2 linked regions of the Homo sapiens genome follow. The protein of the gene in region 1 purifies or fractionates together with the protein of each later gene. This does not show direct contact. Each region holds a gene or a part of one and is shown in the gene's direction. Other genes may lie near its edges. The genes, in order: TRIM3 and MYO5A.

Region 1 (10,270 bases):
TTATTTTTATGCTTTTAGGATGTAAAAGCATCATGTATAACCTCTGCCTTTTGGAGATTTGCAATCTTGTCCATCTGTTCCATATTTCTTAGTTTCTCATGTTTCTGTTTCTTTACTCACTGTTTTCCCAATGTACGTATCAATGTCCTATTTGTCTCTCAAGACCCAGCTCAAATACCCCTTCCTCTGGAAGCCTTCTTTATTCTGTACCATCCTCAGAGTTAGGTACTTCCTCCAGTTTGCTGCTGTAGCAATTTGAACATGTCAATATCATGGTACTTATCACATTGTAGTTACGTGTTTCCATTTCTGTTTCTCACATTAGTCTAAAAACTTGTGAAAGACAGGGAGTGTGTCTGATTCAGCTTTGTGTCTCTATTTCACAGCTGAAGGACCTGGCCCACAGTGTGCCCAGAGAAGTTTGATTGAATGGTTCATTCACTTTACTCAGTCTGGCAATGTTGGGGGAGATGGCCATGAATTTCATTGCTTTCCTTCCCTGCTAATCTTATTTAAAGGATTCATTGGCTTTAAGGACTTTGCCTCATCCAAGGCTTCATTTGTTTCAGAGAAAGCCCAAAGACTGTAACCTGCAGTCATTTGTCATTTTTTTGAGGTCTCAAATGATCAGATAAACCTGGAAGCTAGTGAGTAGACGTGAGTTATTTTAGCAAGCAAATGAGCCTAGCTGACCTCTCGCATCCATTTTCAACAATGCCTTGGTTACCTCCATTCACAACTGTGTAACTCATGTGTACTGGGAATCCTGTGAGATTGTAGGAGGAAGTCCTGGGGAAAATTAATGCTATTTGAGAATTTGGAGAAACTGAAAAGCCTTGAAACACATCCTTTGCAGATGTCCAGGATCTAGTGGAGTCAGCACTGGCTGTCTTCATTTGTTCACAATCAGCTTCTTGCTTGACTCCCTGCATCTGGCTTCCTGTCCTCCATCCCCTGAAAACCACATGCTCTGAGGTTAATGAAAGCCTCTTTGGGGCTTAAATAATGGGACCTCTGCAGCATTTCACTCCCTTGTTCATGAAGTTCTCTTCTCCCTTGGCATTCATGACATCTGTTTCCTGATTCTCTTGCTTCTCTGGTTGTGCCTTCTCAATCTTCTTTGCAGACTCTGCTTCCTGGGCCTATCTCTTAAATATTGAGGTTCCTTGGGACTTGGTGATAGACCCTCCTTTCTCTCTTTACCCTCTCAGGGTAATGTCATCCACGCCCATGGCTTCAGGAACCATCTCTGCACCAACATCCACATTCATGTCTCCAGGCCAGACCTCTCTCTTAGGCTTCAGCGTATCTTTCCAACTGCCAACTGGACCTCTCCACTTGAATTACATCCCATAGGCACCTCAGATTCATCACATTAAACAGTGAACTCTAGCTGGGTGCTGTGGCTCATGCCTGCAACCCCCACGCTTTGGCAGGCCAAGGCAGGAGGATTAGTTGAGCCCAGGAGTTTGAGGCTACAGTGAGCTATGATCATAACACCACATTCCAGCCTGGACAACAGAGTAAGACCCTGTCTCTTAAAAAACAAAAACAAAACTGAAAAAACCTTAAAAGATAAACACCAAACTTATCACCCTCTCATCCAAACTGCTCTTCTTTGAGAGTTTCCAAAGAATCATCTGTTAATTCCTTCTTCTCCCCTAACTCTTCACATGTAAATACCCAGCCACCAAGTTCAGTTGATATCCCCCTGCAAAATTGATTTATCTTGGCCTGTCTTTGCTATTCTCCTAATCAAGGCAGTTTCTTAATTTTCCGTCCTTGCCCTTTAAACTATTTTCCACATAGCAGCCAAAAATGTACTTTTGTCACTCTATACTTAATAGCCCTCACCACTACCAAAGTTTTCCTTTGCTTTTTGGATAAATCCTTCATCCCCTAGCAGGTAAGCGTAAAGTCTAAACTCCTTAATAAGACCAACAAGGCATTGCATGATATATCTTTTGCCTACCTCTCCATCTTGTTTCTTAGCCCTCCCATCACAGTGTCTGATTCAGCCTCCTGATGCAAAAGGCACCATACTCTCTGTAACTCATCCTCAGCTTGAACGTTACTTTCTTTAGGAGTTACTAAAGTTACTTTCTTTAGGAGAAAGGTTGGCCTCCAACCTCTGGACCCACCCCTGCTCCAGATCTAGGTTAGGTAACCTTTGTACTCCTGGAGCAATTGGTGCTTCCTCATCATGGTCTTCACCACTTTACATTGCAGTAATCTATTTATTAGATTGTGGAATCCATGAAGGCTGAGCTGTGACTATTTGTCTTTGTGTCCCCAGGCCTAGCAGCAGTGTCAAGTGAATGCTGAATGAGGGAGTGAGGTGCCTTGAGAACTAAGCCATAAAGTATGGTGGGAATAACCAATACAGGGATAGCAGAAGGCAGTATGAGAAAGGAGAGTAAAGTCTGGCTCTGAGACCAAGGCCTTATAAGTGTCTGCTGTGATAAACAGTTCACTTGAACCACCACCTATAGGATCTTGGGGGCAAATCTCTAGAGCACAGTGGGATGGAAGAGCTAGGACCCCACGGGAGGAAGAGAATCTCAGATTCAGGCAGGGGTATGGCCTCAGCGGCTGCATGCCCAGTAAGTCTGGGAGGGGAACTGAAGCAGGAAGGGGAGGAGTGGGGGAGGAGCTATTGGTCCTTGGACATAGCCCAATCCCCGCCCCTGTGTGACAGTCTGGGAGAGCCCCTAGGCTTGGAGAGAGGTGGAGCCTGGCATCCAGCTACCCCAGCAGGACCCAGCAGACCACTCCCACTCTTCCTCCCAGCCTTTCCCTTCACCAGACAGAGGCTTCAGCTTGCCTCCCGCCTCCTGGTCCTTCCGCCAACCTTCAATCTGTCCTCCCTCCTGCTATGTTTTCCTGGTATTAAGTCTTCAGACTCCAGAACCCATTACAACTGTAGAGAGAACATCAGGATGCCAGTGTCTACATCAGCAGAGGATACTTTCAGGCATGCCCTTCACACTCTACCCAGGCCCACCCTTACACAAACATAAGGCACAGCAACTCAGCCCTTCTATCCCTCCCCAAATCTAGACTCGCTCCTGCATTCATTCATTCATTCATTCATTCATTCATTCACAGTCTTTAGAAAAAGGCTCATAATGCATCCAACAGCACAGACAATGGTGACCTGGTCCTATTCATTGCCTATTTTGGAGTAATCCAGCTGTTGTTCTGCCACCCTTCATGACCAAATCCCTGCCATGTATTGTCTACATCTGCTGTGTTAACTTCATCTCCCATTTACTCTTCAGTCACTCTGACGTGGCTTCTGCCCCTGCCACCCCACCACAGCCAAATCTAGTGGGCACTCTTCAGTCCGTTTCTTACTTCACCCCTTCTTTTTCTTGCACTGTTCTGTTGATTTCTTTGGTTTCACATTCTTTTGGTTTTCCTACCATTTCTCTGGGTTCTCTTTCTCAGAGTCACCTTTGCTGGCTCCCCTCTCTTGTGCCAGGCCCTTTTCTTATCACTGTCTGCCCTCTGTCCCTAGGTGGGCTCATGTCTTCTCATTGCTGAAAGTGCCATTTATATGCTAGTGATCCCAAATCAATAACCAGTCCAGACTTTTCTCTTGAGCTCCTGTATTCTGTTTCTTACTTGACAGCTCTACCTGGACATCAGAGAGACACATTGTACTTAGCATACATAGAACAGAATGCCCCAAATCAGCTCCACCTCAGCTTTCACTGTCTCTATTCATGGCCCATCACTTGCTAAAATGAGAAAGCTAAGTCATAATTGACATCCCTCTCACACCCAGTTCATCTTGATGTCCTTTGGATTTCTCTTTTATTATTTATTTTATTTTTATAGAGATGGGGTCTCATTATGTTGCCCAGACTGATCTCGAACTCCTGAGCTCAAGTGAACCTCCTTCCTCAGCCTCTCGAAGTGCTGGGATTACAGATGTGAGCCACCTTGCTCGGCCAATGAATATTTCTCAAATCAGTCCAGCTTTTTGCTTGTAGCTCAGATGATACCCTACATTATCTTACCCAAAGAACTTTGGTAGCTTCCTAACTGTTTTCTCTGATTCCACTCTGGCTTCTCTTTGTCTTCAATTCTCACAGCTTGCCAGAGTAGCTTTCTAATTTATTTTCACTTATTTATAAACCACATCATCCCCCCCTCCAACTTAGGATAAAATCACTTTTTTTTTTTGAGACAGAATCTCAACTTTGTCTCATGCCAGGCTAGAGTGCAGTGGCACGATTATGGCTCACTGCAGCCTCGACCTCCTGGGCTCAAGCAATCCTCCCACCTCAGCCTCCCAAGTAGCCTGGACTACAGGTGTGTGCCACCATGCCTAGATGATTTTTAATTTTTTTGTAGATATTGGTCTCATTATGTTGCCCAGGCTGATCTCCAATTCCTGGGCTCAAACGATCTTCCTGCTTTGGCCTCTGAAAGTGCTAGTATTACAGGTATGAGCCACTGCACCCAGCCAAAATCACATTCTTAATGGCGGTTATAAGGTCCTTCATGATCTCATCTCTACCTATCTTCCCAAACTCACCTCTTCCTTTTATTGACTTGGCTCCAACCACACAGTCCTTTCAGGTTCTCCATGAGCCTTCTGCCTAAGAACCTTTATCATGCTGTTTCTTCAGCCTAGAATGATTTCCCTTCCTGACTCCCTGTTGTTTCTCACCCTCACCCATACCATTTTTCTCCCATCCACCCAGAATTCTGCTTAAAAGTTACCTCCTTGGAGAGCCTTCCCTGATGACTCAATCAAAAGTGTTCTTTCTCACAGCATCCCTTTTTTCTTTATATCACTTCCCTGCCACTATTATTTACTTTTAAAATATCTGCCACCACCTCCCCACCACAGGGACAGTGACCCTGTCTGTTTTATCATTCCATTCCTAACACCTGTACAAAGTAGGCAGTAAATATTTATTGAATTCCTGAAATCAATTCAGTAAATATAGATCAATCTTTATGTCAGGCTCTGTGCTAAGTGCTAAGAATGAAAACATAAAATAAAATATAAATAAATAAATAAAATGCCTATCCTCAATAACACTGCATGGAGTGGAGAAAGCAGAGAAGTAACAAGAACATTACAGCATAGCTTATAAGAGTTAGGATGGAGTAAATACAGGGTGCTGAGGGACACAGAGGTAGAGCACCCAAGCCAGACTCTGGGTAGTCATGGAAGGTCTTCTAAAGGAGGTGACATTTATATGGGGACCTGAAAGATGAGTAGGTGTCACATCAGCCAGGAAAAGGGGCCAGGAAAAGGATCCCAGGACAGAGAGAACGAATGCCTGATCTCCCAGAAGCAAAAGAGAACAAGGAATTTTCCAGGAACTGGAAAAAAAAAAAAAAAACCCAGCAGGAATGATTGATCATAGACTTATGAGACATGAGGTTGTAGAAAAGGTATGGGGCAAAGTTAAGCCTCACTGGTCAATATAAGGACTTTGGACAATGGATAACATTTGAAGGAATTTAAACAGAGTACTGACAAGATCAAATCTGTGTTTTAGAAAATTCATTCTGGCTTCAAGGAAGATAAATGAAAAGGTGTCAGTGAGGAGACAAGAACACCAGTTAAGAGGCTATTGCTGTATTCCAGGAGAGAACAGATGGTTGCCTGAATTAGGGGTAGTAACTGTGGGATTGGAGAGAAGGGTTTAAGATATTCAGGAAGCAATCCCGACCTTGATACTAACTGGGTGTGAAAAAGAGTGCAGTTTCAGGCAGTTGTGCTAAGAGGTGGGTCAGGGTATAAATGGAAGAGCTGCAGGTAGTTAGAGGAGAGACACTCCATTCAGGTCTCTTGGAGGAGGATTTGGGGGAGGTAGAGGAGATGAAGGGTAGGTATGTCAGTGAAAATGGACATCTCTGTACCATGCACTCAACAGGCACTATGTCACACTCTCAAATTATTATTCCTGTAATTACAAATTAAGAGACTGAGGCTCAGAGAAGTTACATGGATTGTCCAAGCTCACATAGCTGGTGAGAGACTGAGCCAGGTTTGAAACCCAATCTAATCCTACGTCTGTGCTCTTAAACAGAACACCAGGCTCAGAGGTCACATCACCCTGATCCTTCCAGTCACTGCCCTGTCTTGCCCCTAGCAGGGAAGAGGTGGGGGCAAGTTCTCTGCAGGGGATTTGAGTGGCGGGGATTGGGTGGGGAGAAGAAGTTCTGGACTCCCTGGTGCTGACCATCTCTCCATACAGAGGCTGGTGTGAGTGGCGGGAGCCATCTGTGGGCGCCATGGCAAAGAGGGAGGACAGCCCTGGCCCAGAGGTCCAGCCAATGGACAAGCAGTTCCTGGTATGCAGCATCTGCCTGGATCGGTACCAGTGCCCCAAGGTTCTTCCTTGCCTGCACACCTTCTGTGAGAGGTGAGGGGATGTGTGTACTGGGGAGGGATGAGGACCCTGTGGGGAGGATGAGGATCCTCCTCCCCTGTGGGGAGGGTGAGGGAGCATGTGTAAACCTGTAGTAGGTGAGGCAACATGCTTACCTGGGAGGAGAGCAGGTGAACCCCAACCTGCAGGAAATGAGGTTTTGAGGGCAAGAACCTGTGAGAGAACCATAAGAACCATAACACTGGGCCATGGTTCCTGTCAAGAATAGGGCCTTCTCTGTCCTTTCCCAAACCTCAAGGCAGCTTTTGACACCACCTAAGAAATCAAACAGTGCTCAGACTCAACCAGCTTTGGCATCAGCAATTTATGACTAGTTGGAGGATATTTGAAGTTAGGTCTGTCCTTCCCTGCTTGTCCTTGTTGTCCTCAGGTACTGAGTGAAAGGCAACCTGTCCCAGCCTCTAGGCTTCTATGGATCACTTATTCATTTAACAAATATTCATTTATTGAGCAACTACTATGTGCCAGACCCTGTTCTAGGCATTGGGTATGCAGTGATGAGCAAAAACAGATAAGATCCTTACTCTTTTTTTTTTTTTTTTTTTTTTTTTGAGATGGAGTCTCGCTCTGTTGCCCAAGGTGGAGTGTAGTGGCACGATCTCGGCTCACTGCAACCTCTGCCTCCCAGGTTCAACCAATTCTCCTGCCTCAGCCTCCGGAGTAGCTGGGACTACAGGCGCACGCCGCCACGCCCAGCTAACTTTTTGTATTTTATTACAGATGGGGTTTCACCGTGTTGCTCAGGCTGTTCTTGAACTCCTGAACTCAGGCAATCCGCCTACCTCGGCCTCCCAAAGTGCTGGGATTACAGGCGTGAGCTACCGTGCTTACTCTTTTTAAAAACTGATACACAATAGTTTACATATTTATGGGGAACATGTGATACATTGTTACACAAGCATAGAATGGGTAACAATCAAGTAGGGTATTTAAGGTATCCATCACTTACAATGCTTACTCTTAAAGAGCTAACAGTATAGTGAAAGAGAAAGATAGTCATCAAATAATCATATAGCCAGATTATAGATAAATATAACTTTTAGTAAGTGCTGCAAATAAAGTGCTGAGCTATGAGAGATTGGCATATGGAATCTGTTATAGTTTGGAGAATCAGGGAAGGTTTCCCTGAGGAGCAATTCAGAGGATGAATAGGAGTTAACTAGGTAAAGGGGGTTGGAAGAGCATTCTGCACAGAAGAAAGACCATTGGAAAAGCTCATGTGACATGAGAAAATATGTCAGGTAAGAGGCCTGGAGGAAGCCTGGTAGGGCTAGAGCAGAGTGAGTGTGACTGAGAGTATTATGGGATGAAGCTGGAGAGGTAGGTGGAGGCCAGACCACCTAGGGCTTTGTAGACCTGTTAGGGAATTTCACCTTTACCCTGAGAGCCACATGAAGCCTTTGCAGGGTTTTATATGTGATCACATCTGTATTTTGACAATATTCTCTTGGGCCCTTATCTCTCATTGTTCTGTCTTGGGTGGCCTGGTCCCTAGGTCTTCTCACCACCACTGCCTCTATCCGCACTTTTCCTCTGCCTTCTGCCCCAACGGAAACCTGGCTCTGCACCAGAGATACTGCTTCCCTGCCAGCCCTGCTCTTTGAGATTCCAGCTCCACTGCCCACTCTCCTTTATCAACTGGAAATGGCCTCAGTTTTCCTGTCCATTCAAGTTCTTCTGTCAGCCTGGGGACAACCACCCTCTTGTGCCTGTTGGTTCTTAACTGTTTCTTCAGGGTTGTCCCCCATTCCACCTCAGTAACACTCCCTCCCAACCATGCCCTGAATCTTATAATCCAGAATCTTATCTGTAGTCATAAACGCCAACGTTCCACTCCTGGCTCCCGTTACCCCACTCCCATTACACCACTTTCGATACAATATAGATATCTAGCCCCTTTGACTGCTCCCTCTTTTCCCAGTCACCAGCTGCGTCCTGGCCTCCCTGTCTTTCCTGCCCATCCTGGACCCTGTGGCTGACCGACTGGCTCCCCTGCAGTTCCTTCACATCTTTATCCTTTGCAAAACCCATGCAATAGAAGCTCAATGTTGGATCAGAGCTGAAATTGGATGTCTCTGCACTTTCTCCTGTGCCCAGATCACTGAGCACTCCTGGAGAAAATCTGGCTGAGAAATTGTAATAACAGTAGCTACCATGTATTGATTGCTTACTGTTTGCCAGGGACTGGCTAAGTGATTTATACATACTGATTTCCTTAATCCCTGCAACAGATACTTTATTAACTTCATTTTATTTTTTTATTTTAATTTTTTAATGTAACTTTTCATTTTAATTTTTTTTGGTTTGTTTTTTGTTTTTGTTTTTGTTTTTTTGAGACAGAGTCTCTCTCTGTCACCCAGGCTGGAGTGCAGTGGCGCCATCTTGGCTCACTGCAATCTCTGCCTCCTGGGTTCAAGTGATTCTCCTGCCTCAGCCTCCCAAGTAGCTGGGACTACAGGCGCACGCCACCACATCCGGTTAATTTTTGCATTTTTAGTAGAGATGGGGTTTCACCATGTTGGCCAGGCTGGTCTCGAACTCCTGACCTTGTGATCTGCCCGCCTCAGCCTCCCAAAGTTCTGGGATTCCAGGCGTGAGTCACCGTGCCCAGCTTGTTTCAATTTTTTAAATTTTATTTTTTTTTTAGAGATGAGTGTCTTGCTATATTGCCCAAACTGGACTTGAACTCCTGGGCTCAAGTGATCCTCCTGCCTCAGCCTCCTGAGTAGCTGGGATTACAGGTGCAGGCTACCACACCCAGGTATCCCCATATTAGAGAGGAGGAAACTAAGGTTCAAAGTCAGTAAATAATTAAGAAATATCTCTGGCCAGGTGCAGTTGCTCATGCCTGTAATCCCAGCACTTTGGGAGGCCAAGGTGGGAGGATCACTTGAGCCTAGGAGTTCCAGAGTAGCTTGGGAAACAACATAGTGAGATGCAGTCTCTAAAAAAGAATTTAAAAATTAGCTGGGTGTGGTGGCATGCACCTGTAGTTCTAGCTAATCGGGAGGCTGAGGTGGGAGGATCATTTGAGCCTGGGAGGTGGAGGCTGCAGTGAGCCATGATCACATCACTGCACTCTAGCCTGGGTGACAGAGAGAGGCTCTATCTTAAATTAAATAAACAAATAAAAAAAAAGAAATATTTCCAAGGCTACACAGTAAGTAAATAGCTGAGATCTGAATCCAGTTTTCACTGCAGAGCCTTCACTGTCAACTAGTATTCATTCATGTATCCCTTGGTCCCTGCTCTCAGAGGATGTTCTAGTGGGCAGTGACTGACAGTAAGCAATCAAGAAAACGAGAGCTGCAGCTTGTATTAATGTTTTACAGGATATAAACAGAGAGAAGTAGGGGTGTTTGGGGCAAGAACTATTCTATATAGTCATCAAGGAAGGCTTCCCTGAGGAGGTGACATTTGACCTGAGTTCTGAGGATAAGAAGGAGACAGATTGTTCCAGGCAATAGAAAAATCTGTGCAAAGGCCTTGAGGAAGAAGTAGACAGGACATGTTCAGATACCAGAAAAGAAACCAGTGTGGCCAAGTGAGGAGTAAAGTGGGATGAGGTGAAATTGGAGAGAATAAGGGCAGTTTAAGGGGGAGCTTGTAGGTTTTCAGAAAGTGTTTGGATTTTATTTTAAGTGCAATGGGAAACCATTGGAGTTTTTAAAAATATATATATACAGGGAAATAATGTAATGTAAAAAGTTCACCCTAGCTGTTATGGAGAGAATGGATTATAAAGGAGCAAGAGTGGAAACAGAGACCAGTTAGGAAGCTATCGTGAGCCAGGTACACTTGACAAATAGGAAGGGGATATTGCTGAATTAGAAGGTGTTTTGCATGGG
Region 2 (10,685 bases), on another chromosome or scaffold:
TGTGATGAAAATGACATTTTACTCTGTGGTCTTAGTAGCTCACACCTGTAATCCCAGCACTTGAGGAGGCTGAGGTGAGAGGATCATTTGAGCTCACAGATTCAAGATCAGCTTGTGCAACATTGTAGGACTTTGTCTTGATAAAAATTTTTTTAAATTAGCCAGGCGTGGTGGCACATACCTGTGGTCCCAGCTACTTGGGAGGCTAAGGAAGGAGGATCACTTGAGCCTGGGAGATTGAGGCTGTAGTGAGCCTAGATTGCTCCACTGCACTGCAGCTTGGGTGACAGAGTGAGACCCTGTCTCAAAAAAAAAACAAAAAAAGGCAAAACAAATTTATAATCCCAGTCTAATCAAGACATAGCCCAATTGAGACACATTCTACAAAATATCTGACCTATACTCCTCAAAATTGTCATCAAAAACAAAGAAAGCCTGAGAAACTGTCAGCTAGGAAGATCTTTTGTTCTTTTTTAATTTTTTTTAAATTTAAATAAGGCTTCAGGTCATAAAGAAGATCCTAATGAGACATGACGACTAAATGTAATGTGGCATCCTGGACAGGATCCTGAAACAGAAAAAGGACATTAGGTAAAACTAAGGAAACCTGAGTCAAGTATGTATTTCAGTTAATTATAACAAGTCACTATTGGCTGATTAATTGTAACAAGTGTATCATAAAAATGTAAGACATTTATAATAGGGGAAACTGGTTGCAGGATATATGGGAATTCCATACTATCTTTGCAATTTTTCTGTAATCTAAAACTGTTCTAAAATAAAAAGTTTATTATTATTATTATTATTATTATTATTATTTTAAAAAGCTCCCCTGACTTGCTCTAGGTTGGAACTGGGACTAGAATCTAGGCCATTTGGATCTAAGTCATTTTCACTATTCAAGAGGTTCCATCACCACGACATGTAAGGCAAGTGTGTGTCTGTGGGTGTTGGAGGTACAGGATGAGAGGGGGTCCACAAGTACTATAACATGATGTCATTCAGGAAGATCAAGGCAATATGAAGTCTATGGAATTGGGCTGGAAGTATTTAAAGATCCAAGAAAAAAAATCAACTGTTTGAAGCAATCAGGTGCCATGGAGCTAAGCATAGAGATACACAAGCTGGTCAAATAGCAGGTGGTCAGGACACAGGCTAGAAGACTGGGGTACAAAAGACCAGAGATCAGACAGATACATTAGGACACACAAGATTAGAATCCAGAATTATAGTAATAGGTATCGGGAATAAAAATAATAGTAATAGGCCAGGTGCAGTGAGTCACACCTATAATTCCAGCAGTTTGGGAAGCCAAGGCAGGTGGATCACTTGAGTTCAGGAATTCAAGACCAGCCTAGCCAACACAGTGAAACTCTGCTTCTACTGTAAAATACAAAAATTAGCTGGGTGTGGTGGCACGTGCCTGTAATCCCAGCTACTCATGAGGCTGAGGCAGGAGAATCGCTTGAACCCGAGAGGGAGGTGTAGATTGTAGCAAGCTGAGATCATGCCACTGCACTCCAGCCTGGGCGACAGAGTGAGACTCTGTCTCAAAAAATAAAAAATAAAATAATTTACATTTACAATATACTTTGCACATAAAATTTTCACATATATTATTTATTTGATATTGAATTAAGTATTGTACCTTTTGAGTTAAGTACAGCACTTTTTTATCCTCCTTTCCTAGGGTTGCCTAAGCTCACAGGTGAGGGGCAGCTAGAATAACTAGCTGGAGTTGGGGAAGGGAAGAGGTGGGAAGCCAAGCAGTTCCTGATACTTGCCTCCCATCTTTCAAAAGTGTTTTCAGTTAGCCTTACTGTATTCTTGACTTTTTTCTGTTCCATAGCTTCATTTCCTCATGCTGTTCCCCCACATGTCCTTCAACCACAAACGACTTCCCATCCATATCACCACTTAGATCTCTCAATGAACTATTTGGAGTTCTTTCTCGCTGACTTAAATGTCACCTATGCCCAGTACCTAGTCCTCTGAAGCATTAAATATTAGGATATGCCAATCTCAACTGATGTACTATATATAACCAGTAACACAGCATTGGGCTTCTACTTCTAGAATTGGGCCAATCTTACAGAATTAGTTACTATTTTGTATGACCGTGCAGCAAGGACTGCCTCTTCTGCTACCCCTCCAGCCACCCCTTGCAGTGAGCTCCTCCAGGCCAGTGATCATGTTTCACTCATCTCTATATCTTTATTATCTTAAGTGCTGACATATAATAAGCCCTCAATTAAAAATAATTCAATTGGAATTTGATGACTACCCTAATTCAAATTGCTTCTTCCCCCAAATTCTTTCTTCTCTGTATGTTTTTTCTCATTGCATACTGTTCTGGTTTGAGTTGTGTCCCTCAAAAAATGTTGAAGTTCTGACCTCTCCCCACCCCACCATCCCTGTGAGTGTGACCTTATTTGGAAACACCATCTTTGCAGATGATCAACTTAGGATGAGGGCAGTGGGTTGGGCCCTAATTCAATTATGACTGTGTCCTTATAAGAAGGAACAATTTGGATATAGAGACATGCGCACACACAGGGAGCCTGCCACATGAAGATGAGGGCAGAGATTGGGGGATGTAGCAAAAGCTAAAAAATGTCAAATGCCAAAGATTGTCCACAAACTATCAGAAGGCAGGAGAGAGGCAAGGAACAGATTCTGCTTCACAGTCCTCAGAAGGAACCAACCCTCCCAATCCTTTGATCTCAGACTTCTAGACCCCAGAACTGTGAGATAATACCTCTCCGTTGGTTAAGCACAGTTTGTATTACTTTATCATGGCAGCCCTAGGAAACTAATACACCACTTACCAACTTTACCTTCTAACTCTATCATTGTCTTTCTCCCTGACTAGAATGGAAGCTCCATGGGGTCAGGGCTCTTCATCTGTTTTGCTCATGCCTGAATTCTCAACATGTAGAACAATGTCTGGCATATGATAGCTTCCAATATTTGTTGAAAATAAGGAATGGAATTTTTCATATAAACCTAGACATTGTTTTCATTTGAAAACACCCTACATAAAAATGCTCCCAATAATAAAGCAATAACGGAAAACTTTAACAACTTAAGAATACACTACCCTCTGGCTACTCTGAGAGGGGGATCCTAAACCCTTAGAAGCTGTAACTATTGCTGATTTCTACACCTCACTAGTGACAGGGTGCTTGGGACTATGAACGCATACATGGAAGTGAGCGGAGGCCACCCCTCGGGGCTTCCCTTTGCTGCTTCTGGCTTTTTACTCTGCTTTTTTTCTGAACAAAGTAAAGTAAGGTCAAGAATACAGAACCCGGCCAGGCGTGGTGGCTCATTCTTGTAATCTCAGAACTTTGGGAGGCTGAGGCGGGCGGATAGCCTGAGGTCAGGAGTTTGAGGCCAGCCTGGACAACATGGTGAAACCCCGTCTCTACTAAAAATACAAAAATTAGCTGAGCGTGGTGGTGGACACCTGTAATCCTAGCTACTCAGGAGGCTGAGGCATGAGAATTGCTTGAACCTGGGAGGCAGAGGTTGCAATGGGCCGAGATTGTGCCACTGGACTCCAGCCTAGGCAAGAGAACAAGACTCAGTATCAATCAATCAATAAATAAAAATACAAAACTCTTCTCCTCCTCATCTCCATTACCTTCCTCTTAGTATGGCCCCAAATATTTGAGTGGTTGAATGCATGCGTTCTGGACTTATAAGAGGATAATTCCCCTTTCTGTTTTCTCCTCATCACTTGAAAAAAATAGAAAACGAAGAAAGCATTCACACCTACAAGAACTCGTCCAGTTTTTTAGTTTTTTTTTTTTTCTCAGTATACTCAGCATTTCTCGACAGTCCTGAGAGGTAGGTATTATTTGAAGGTGAGAAAACAGGCAGAGTGGTTACCACCTTGCACACGACATGAAGAAACTGCAAGGCGTAGGAGCCAGGCCTCCTAAATCTCAGTCCAGTGCTCCTTCCGTTCCGCTGGTCGTCACTGCACACGTTTTCTCTTTTTATGTCTGGGTGAAGAAAGAGTGGGTCCCAGAAACATGAAAGCGATTTGGTTTTGCAATGGGAAGGAACAGAGACAAATCTGTAGGACTTTCGACTCAGTAGACATTCCCTCTAGCATTTCTGAGGGGATTGTGGGCGAAGAGGAGAGGTCTGAGTTCCACGGAGTAAGGACTGGCCCCGTTCCTTTCAGTGAATGGTCTTTCTCCAAATACACACGCACACAACACACACAACCGGGGGCCTCAGCCATGAGAGTTGTTCGTGATAGAAATGGTCTACCAGATTACCATGACAGGCACTGGGGACCAGTTGTAGTTCAAAGAAACGAGAGATGAGGGCACTACAAAGAGGCAGGGATTAAACAAACAAAAACAGCAACAACAACAACGACAACAATAAAGAATGAAGATTATTCAACCAGAAACGACAATGAGGGTGGGGAGAAGATAGAGGATGAAGACAGCGCAGGGTTGGGAGTAGAAAGACCACATTCTTGTGCTGGATGTTCAAGGATCACCGTGAGGAGAGTGAGGGCGGCTTTGCCCTTTTGATGTTGAGTTAAACTGTAATACAGATTTTCCATGTAAGTACTCCGTCATTTTCAGGTGGCAACCGGATAAACTTCAGGTGCCACCATGGAGCCGACAATCACCAGCAGCGAACAGGACGGGAAGAAGGCTGGGACAGAAGGGTAGTTGCATCTCCGCAAACGCACAGGTCTAGGAAAGAGGCACCTGGGCTGTCCCCGGGCTATCTCGTTTCAAAGTCACTTAAGTTTCTGTAGCTTAGAAGCGGCCCTTGCCCTCTGGTATCGGGAGACGACTTTGCTGCAGACATCGAGGTGCTCGGAATGACCTTGGTGATCAACCTTAACCTGAAATTCCCGGTCCTGCATTGCCCATCTCCCGGGTCACTGCTGCTGACAAGGCTCTTCTACAGTCCTGGGTTATTCTACAGTCTTTCAAGAGGGCTTCCCCTAAATCCTCTCCCTAGGAATGCTTGGAAGGACGGGAGGAGCAGCCTGGAGGCTCCCATCGTTTATTCGGACACAGTAACAGCCCGTGCCATGGCTGCGCTACCGCGGGAGCTAGGCTCCGCAGCAGAGGGCCCCGGGCTCGCTTCGGGGTGGGGGCGCCCGGGGTGTGCCGCGCCCTCGGGGCTCACGTCCCGGGCGGGTTTCCGGGCCTCGGCAGGGCGCGAGGCGGCGGCGGGGCCGGCTGGCAGGCTGATGATGATGATGCTCTGTGCTCGTAGCCGATGGGAGGCAGCGTGAGCCCGAGAGAGCCCAGAGCAGCCGCGGTGGCAGCGCTGGAGCGCAGCCTCCTCCCGCTCCCATAATGCACAGGGCGGCGGCGGTGGCGGCGGCGGCAGCGGAGGCAGCATCGCGGGCCGCCGAAGTGGCTGCGGCGGCGGCGGCGACCCCTAGGACCCCGGGCAGGTGGAGCGCTCGCGGCTGCTCGCGGCGAGCCCGGGAGTGATGGCGAGGCCCCTGCGGGCGGCCAGCGCCTGAGGCGCCCCGCCCCGCCCCGCCCCGCGCGGCCCTCCCCGCCCGGCCCTGCCCTGCCCTGCTCCCTGCCGGCGGCTGCGGGCGCTTCCTAGTCCGCTCGGGCGGCCGCCCAGGCGAGGTGCGGCCTCCGCACAGGCGGGGGGCGTAGGCGCGCGGGGCCCGCCATGGCTGCGTCGGAGCTCTACACAAAGGTAAGGCACCCCGCGGCCGGCGTCGAGGACTGGGGCTGTGCGGCCCTCGCCGCCAGCTGTCAGGCTGGGGAGGGGGCGGGAGCGCCGGGCCCAGGCGAGCCCCACCAGCGCCATCCCCTTCAGCGCCTCAGAACCCTCGGCCCTACCAGCCGGTCGCCCGCTGCGGCACCTTCCTCTTTCGGGCGAGATGGTGAAGGCGGCGGAAGGTGGCCCGCCTCGGGGGTCTCCCAGGCCCCTGCCGCGCTGCTCGAGCTGGGGGCAGAGCGGGCTTCGGAGTGGAAAGGGGGCCCATGTGGATTTAGCAGGGCGGGCGTGCCTCCCCTCCTGCTTGGCTTTGGAAAATTCCCGGCGGGTGGGAGATGCTTGCTCCAGTAGATCGGATGGGTTCTCTCGTGGGGACACGCGCTTAAAATAACGTCTTGTGTTGGTATGCAGTGCCGCTTCTACCGCCAGCTAGCCTTTCTGTGAGGTTATTTTGAATCCTGCAAACGGTGGCCGTATCACCTTTAGCTCCCCAGTTTAGCTGCGCTGGGGGTGGCGAGCCCCGGGGAAAGATGCTGCCGGATGAACGCGAGCTGATTCACCGGCTGGGAGGGTCGGTACTCATTTATCGCTGGGAGTTTGCAACCTGCGTGTAATCCCGCAGAGCCTTGTTAGGCTCCATGTCTTTACCATCCTCTGGGGCAAGCCTTTCCCTTCTGGGTTTGGTTTAAGGGAAGTGGCAGTCTTTTCTTAGACTGACATCAATATACTCAGGGTCTGGCGATCTCTGAATGACATATTATGGAGAACTGTCACTTGAGTGCTGCGCAGATTTGTGATGACCTTTGTGAATATATGTAATCATGGCATTTTATACTGTACACTCATGTGTAGGTAGATATTTTGCCAGATATTGATTACTTCTACATGCAGTTAATAGAGTTGCCTTTTCACATTAGCTTTTGCAACAGAACTTTCATTTAGGGTCCTGTAATCACTGGAATCATTGTTTCCAAATGTCACTGAAGTCCAGGGCCCAAGTTGCAGTGTGTTTTGTAGAGGAAAGAAGACTGGGCATCAAGAGACCTGGATTCAAGCCGGGACTTACTAACTGTGACCTTGGACAAGTCACTTAACATCTCTGGTTCGATTTCCTAATGAGTAAATGCAGTTAATTATACTTGCCTTGCATCCCTTACAAGCTGTTGTGAGAATCAAACTTAATAATCGTTGTGAAAGCTTTTTGTAACCTATGAATTTCTCTGCAAATATGAGATATATGATTAATTTCTTCAACCATGAAATGAGCTTGCATGAAACATTGTCTGAGACCTCTTTCTTTCTAGTTTTAGATTTAACGACTGTACAGTTGGAACTTCTCTCTCAACCTGGTAATTTCTTTAGGCATTGTAGATCTCTAACATATGAACGAATGCAATTGGAAACTGATTAAAAGTAACTTAAACACTTAATATGGTGCTTGCTATGTGCCAGGTACTGTTTTAAGCGTTTTAAAAATATGAACTCATAATCCTCATAAGGAACTTATGAGGTCGATATTAAGAAATATCAAAATCATTTTCACATGAAGAGATAATCAGTCTGTAAACATTCCTTGGTTACTTTGTGTAGCCCATCCCCTCCACTTCTACATCAAGTTTGTCCAACCCGCAGCCCATGGGCCGCATGTGGGCCCAGGACGGCTTTGAATGTGCCCCAACACAAATTCATAAACTTTCTTAAAACATGGGTTGTTGTGTTTTTTTTGCAATTTTTTTTTTAGCTCATCATTTATCATTAGTGTATTTTATGTGTGGCCAAAGAAAATTCTTCTTCCAGTGTGGCCCAGGGAAGCCAAAAGATTGGACACCCTCCGTTCTATATGGTGAGCAGTCATCTTTGAGTCACCTAATAGTAGGCTGCTTAACTAGAGACTGAGTGGATAATAAATTGTTGTTGGATTTCGAATGCTTTTTTCCCCCAGGATAATTTGGGAGAAAAAATTGAAAAGATGTTGTGATTTGTAAATGGTAAAGTTTTGGGCTTCTGTCACAGCTTTATCACAATCTATTTTAAAATTTACCTTTTAACAGCCTGAGGAACATAATGAGACCTGGTCTCTACAAAAAAATTAAAAAGTTAGGCTGGGCACGGTAGCTCACGCCTGTAATCCCAACACGTTGCCGAGGTGGGTGAATCACCTGAGGTCAGGAGTTCGAGACCATCTTGACCAACATGGCAAAACCCCGTCTCTACTAAAAATAGAAAATTAGCTGGGCGTGGTGGCGCATGCCTGTAATCCCAGCTACTCAGGAGGCTGAGGCAGGAGAATCACTTGAACCTGGAAGGCGGAGGTTGCAGTGAACCAAGATCGCGAGCCTGGGCAACAAGAGCGAAACTCTGTCTCAAAAAATAAATAAATAAATAAATAAAAATTAGCTGGGCGAGTTAGTCACGCCTGCGGTCCCAGCTACTCGAGAGCTGAGGCAGGATGATCAGCTGAGGCAGGAAGATTGCTTGAGCCTGGGAGGTTGAGGCTGCAGTGAGCCATGACTGTGCCACTGCACTCCATCCTGGGCAAAACAGCAAGACCGTGTGTTGAAAAAAAATTTTTTTTAACCTCTTTGTCATTATAAAGACAGACTGGCTTAGAGATCAAGACTGAAGTTGGGGCTTACACTGCCTTCTTCTAAATATACTTATGCCTAATTAATAGTCTGGTTACTTGGTTATTTGTTGGCAAATTCTTTTTGTGAATGGGCCTTAGCTTAATGGCAAGCAGAAATACTTATCAGGCATCCTGTGTGCCAGGTACTTTGCTTAATGTTTAGAGGATTTAACAATGAACAAGATACAGTCCTTTCCCTCAACACGCTCATAGTCTGCTTCTTACATTCTTGACCCACTTTGAATCTATAGGGGCATAAATAACCTGCTGTTACCTCAACAGCAGGCAGACAGCTGGTATGATATTTATTAGTAGAAGTTAGGGAATGGGTTGGGACATGGGGAAGGTTGGGCTGATTCCAGAGATAAAAACTACTATTGTAATTACTAGAGGAATAGGAAAATCATTAGAAGTATTATCAGTGGATAAGCACAAGGATCTTCCCCTTGCAGAGGATTATAGGAAGGAAGTTCTAGGATAGATTACAAGGAAAGATGTATTAGTGATATGCCATAATTATGGTATTTAACATTGTGGTTAAATCTGAAAAGTGCTCTTTAAAAAAATGTCATTCAGATCTTAAGGGCAGATTTTAATGTGTGATACAGATCAGTTCCTATTACAGTGAAGGACAAGAGACTGTTCAATTTCTTCTTTTTAGCCAGAATGGTAATGGTTTTGTCACAGCAATTTAACAAGGCTTCCATTTTGTAAGTTTTTCCAGCAGTATAAACATTTTAAGGACAATAGCTAGGTTCTTGGGATACTTGTCTGGAAACGAATATTTTGGTTAAAACATGTTTTGTTGATTTTTAAAAATAACAGCTTTATTGAGATATGTGTCTTATACCATATAATTCACCATTTAAAGTGTACTATTCAATGGTTTTTGGTTTATTCACAGAGTAGTATGTTGATGTGTTTGTGGTCAACCTGCCTTGCTCCCAAAAGAATTAAAGGAAACTATGATATCTCATTGCTTCTGATTTTGAAAATATTTGCTAGTCTTGACTTGCCAGTGGATATCTATATCATACATCATCCATAGGTGCTTTTGGTAACTAGAAGCAATTCTACATTTGTGGAGTAGGGTTTATCAATTAGACCTAGAAGGATTATCGGGAACATTATAATGAATGGCATGCTATTCCTCCTGTCATCATGTTCCCAGACACCATGGATAGCACCATGGTATCCATGCTATAGGATGGTCAAGATTACTTGAAGCTGGGTTTTTTTTTTTTTAATTTTTTATTTTTTTTGAGACAGGGTCTCACTGTGTCACCCAGGCTGGAGTGCAGTGAAATGAACATGGCTCACTGTAGCCTTTAACTCCTGGGCTCAAGCTGTCCTCCCACCTCAGCCTCGTGAGTAGCTGGGACCACAGCTATGCACCCAGCTAATTTTTAAATTTCTTCTAGAGATAGTCTCAGTATGTTGCCCAGGCTGGTCTTAAACTCCTGGACTCAAGTGATCCTCCTGCTTCCACCTCCCATAGTGTGGGATTACAGGCATGAGCCACCACACCCAGCCTATTTTATTTATTTATTTATTTATTTATTTATTTATTTATTTAGGTTCAGGGTCTCACTCTGTTGTCCAGGCTGAGGTGTAGTGGTGTGAACATGGCTCATTGCAGTATCGACCTCCCAGGTGCAAGCCATCCTCCCACCTCACCTTCCTGGGTAGCTGAATCTACAGGCATGTGCTACCAAACCCAGCTAATTTTTGTACTTTTTACAGAGACAGGATCTTGCTGTGTTGCCCAGGCTGATCTCTAACTCCTCAGGTCAAATGATTCTCCTGCCTCGGCCACTCAAAGTGTTGAGATTACAGACATGAGCCACCATGCCTGGCTTATTTTTAATTTTAAAAAAGTTTTAATTTTTTTGTTTACTTTTGTGTTTTGTTTTGTTTTTACCTGAAGCTGTTTGATTAGGAGGTTCCCATGTGTGCTGAGATGCTGAGTATTGTAACAGTGCAAAGACAATCTAAAATTCCACATTTGCAAAGCATGTTAACTTGCCTAGATGAAACAGCTCTTAAGGTCAGTAGATTGTATATGTGTAACTTTCCATTCCCAACATATCCTCTCATATATACAGGAGCCACATGGCCTAGATTTTTTCTGGGATAGATCCACTTTTATATTCTATGGCACTGTCTCTTCAAACTACTGATCTTGGAAATTCTAATATTTTCATGTCGAGACTGTATTTCTCAGACTGCTTCCAACATCTTAAAGAGGAACAGAAATCTCATCTCTGATCATGTGCCCTGACTTGGAGTTTGGCAAGGATGTTAGCTGTCCTCAAGTCTCCTGTCATGCCCT

The links.
Region 2: the proteins of TRIM3 (region 1) and MYO5A purify together in Homo sapiens (affinity purification with western blotting; 2 studies listed by BioGRID, with this or other methods). This does not show direct contact.

The regions. Positions count from the first base shown.
Region 1 is NC_000011.10:6,461,690-6,471,959, reverse strand, and holds part of TRIM3 (tripartite motif-containing protein 3), read left to right. Parts: intron 1-4,436; exon of another isoform or gene 4,437-4,454; intron 4,455-6,227; coding exon of another isoform or gene 6,228-6,264; coding exon 6,265-6,395; intron 6,396-10,270.
Region 2 is NC_000015.10:52,523,798-52,534,482, reverse strand, and holds the start of MYO5A (unconventional myosin-Va), read left to right. Parts: upstream 1-5,602; 5' UTR 5,603-5,676; coding exon 5,677-5,703; intron 5,704-10,280; exon of another isoform or gene 10,281-10,301; coding exon of another isoform or gene 10,302-10,400; intron 10,401-10,685. UniProt on the Homo sapiens protein: Processive actin-based motor that can move in large steps approximating the 36-nm pseudo-repeat of the actin filament. Can hydrolyze ATP in the presence of actin, which is essential for its function as a motor protein. Involved in melanosome transport.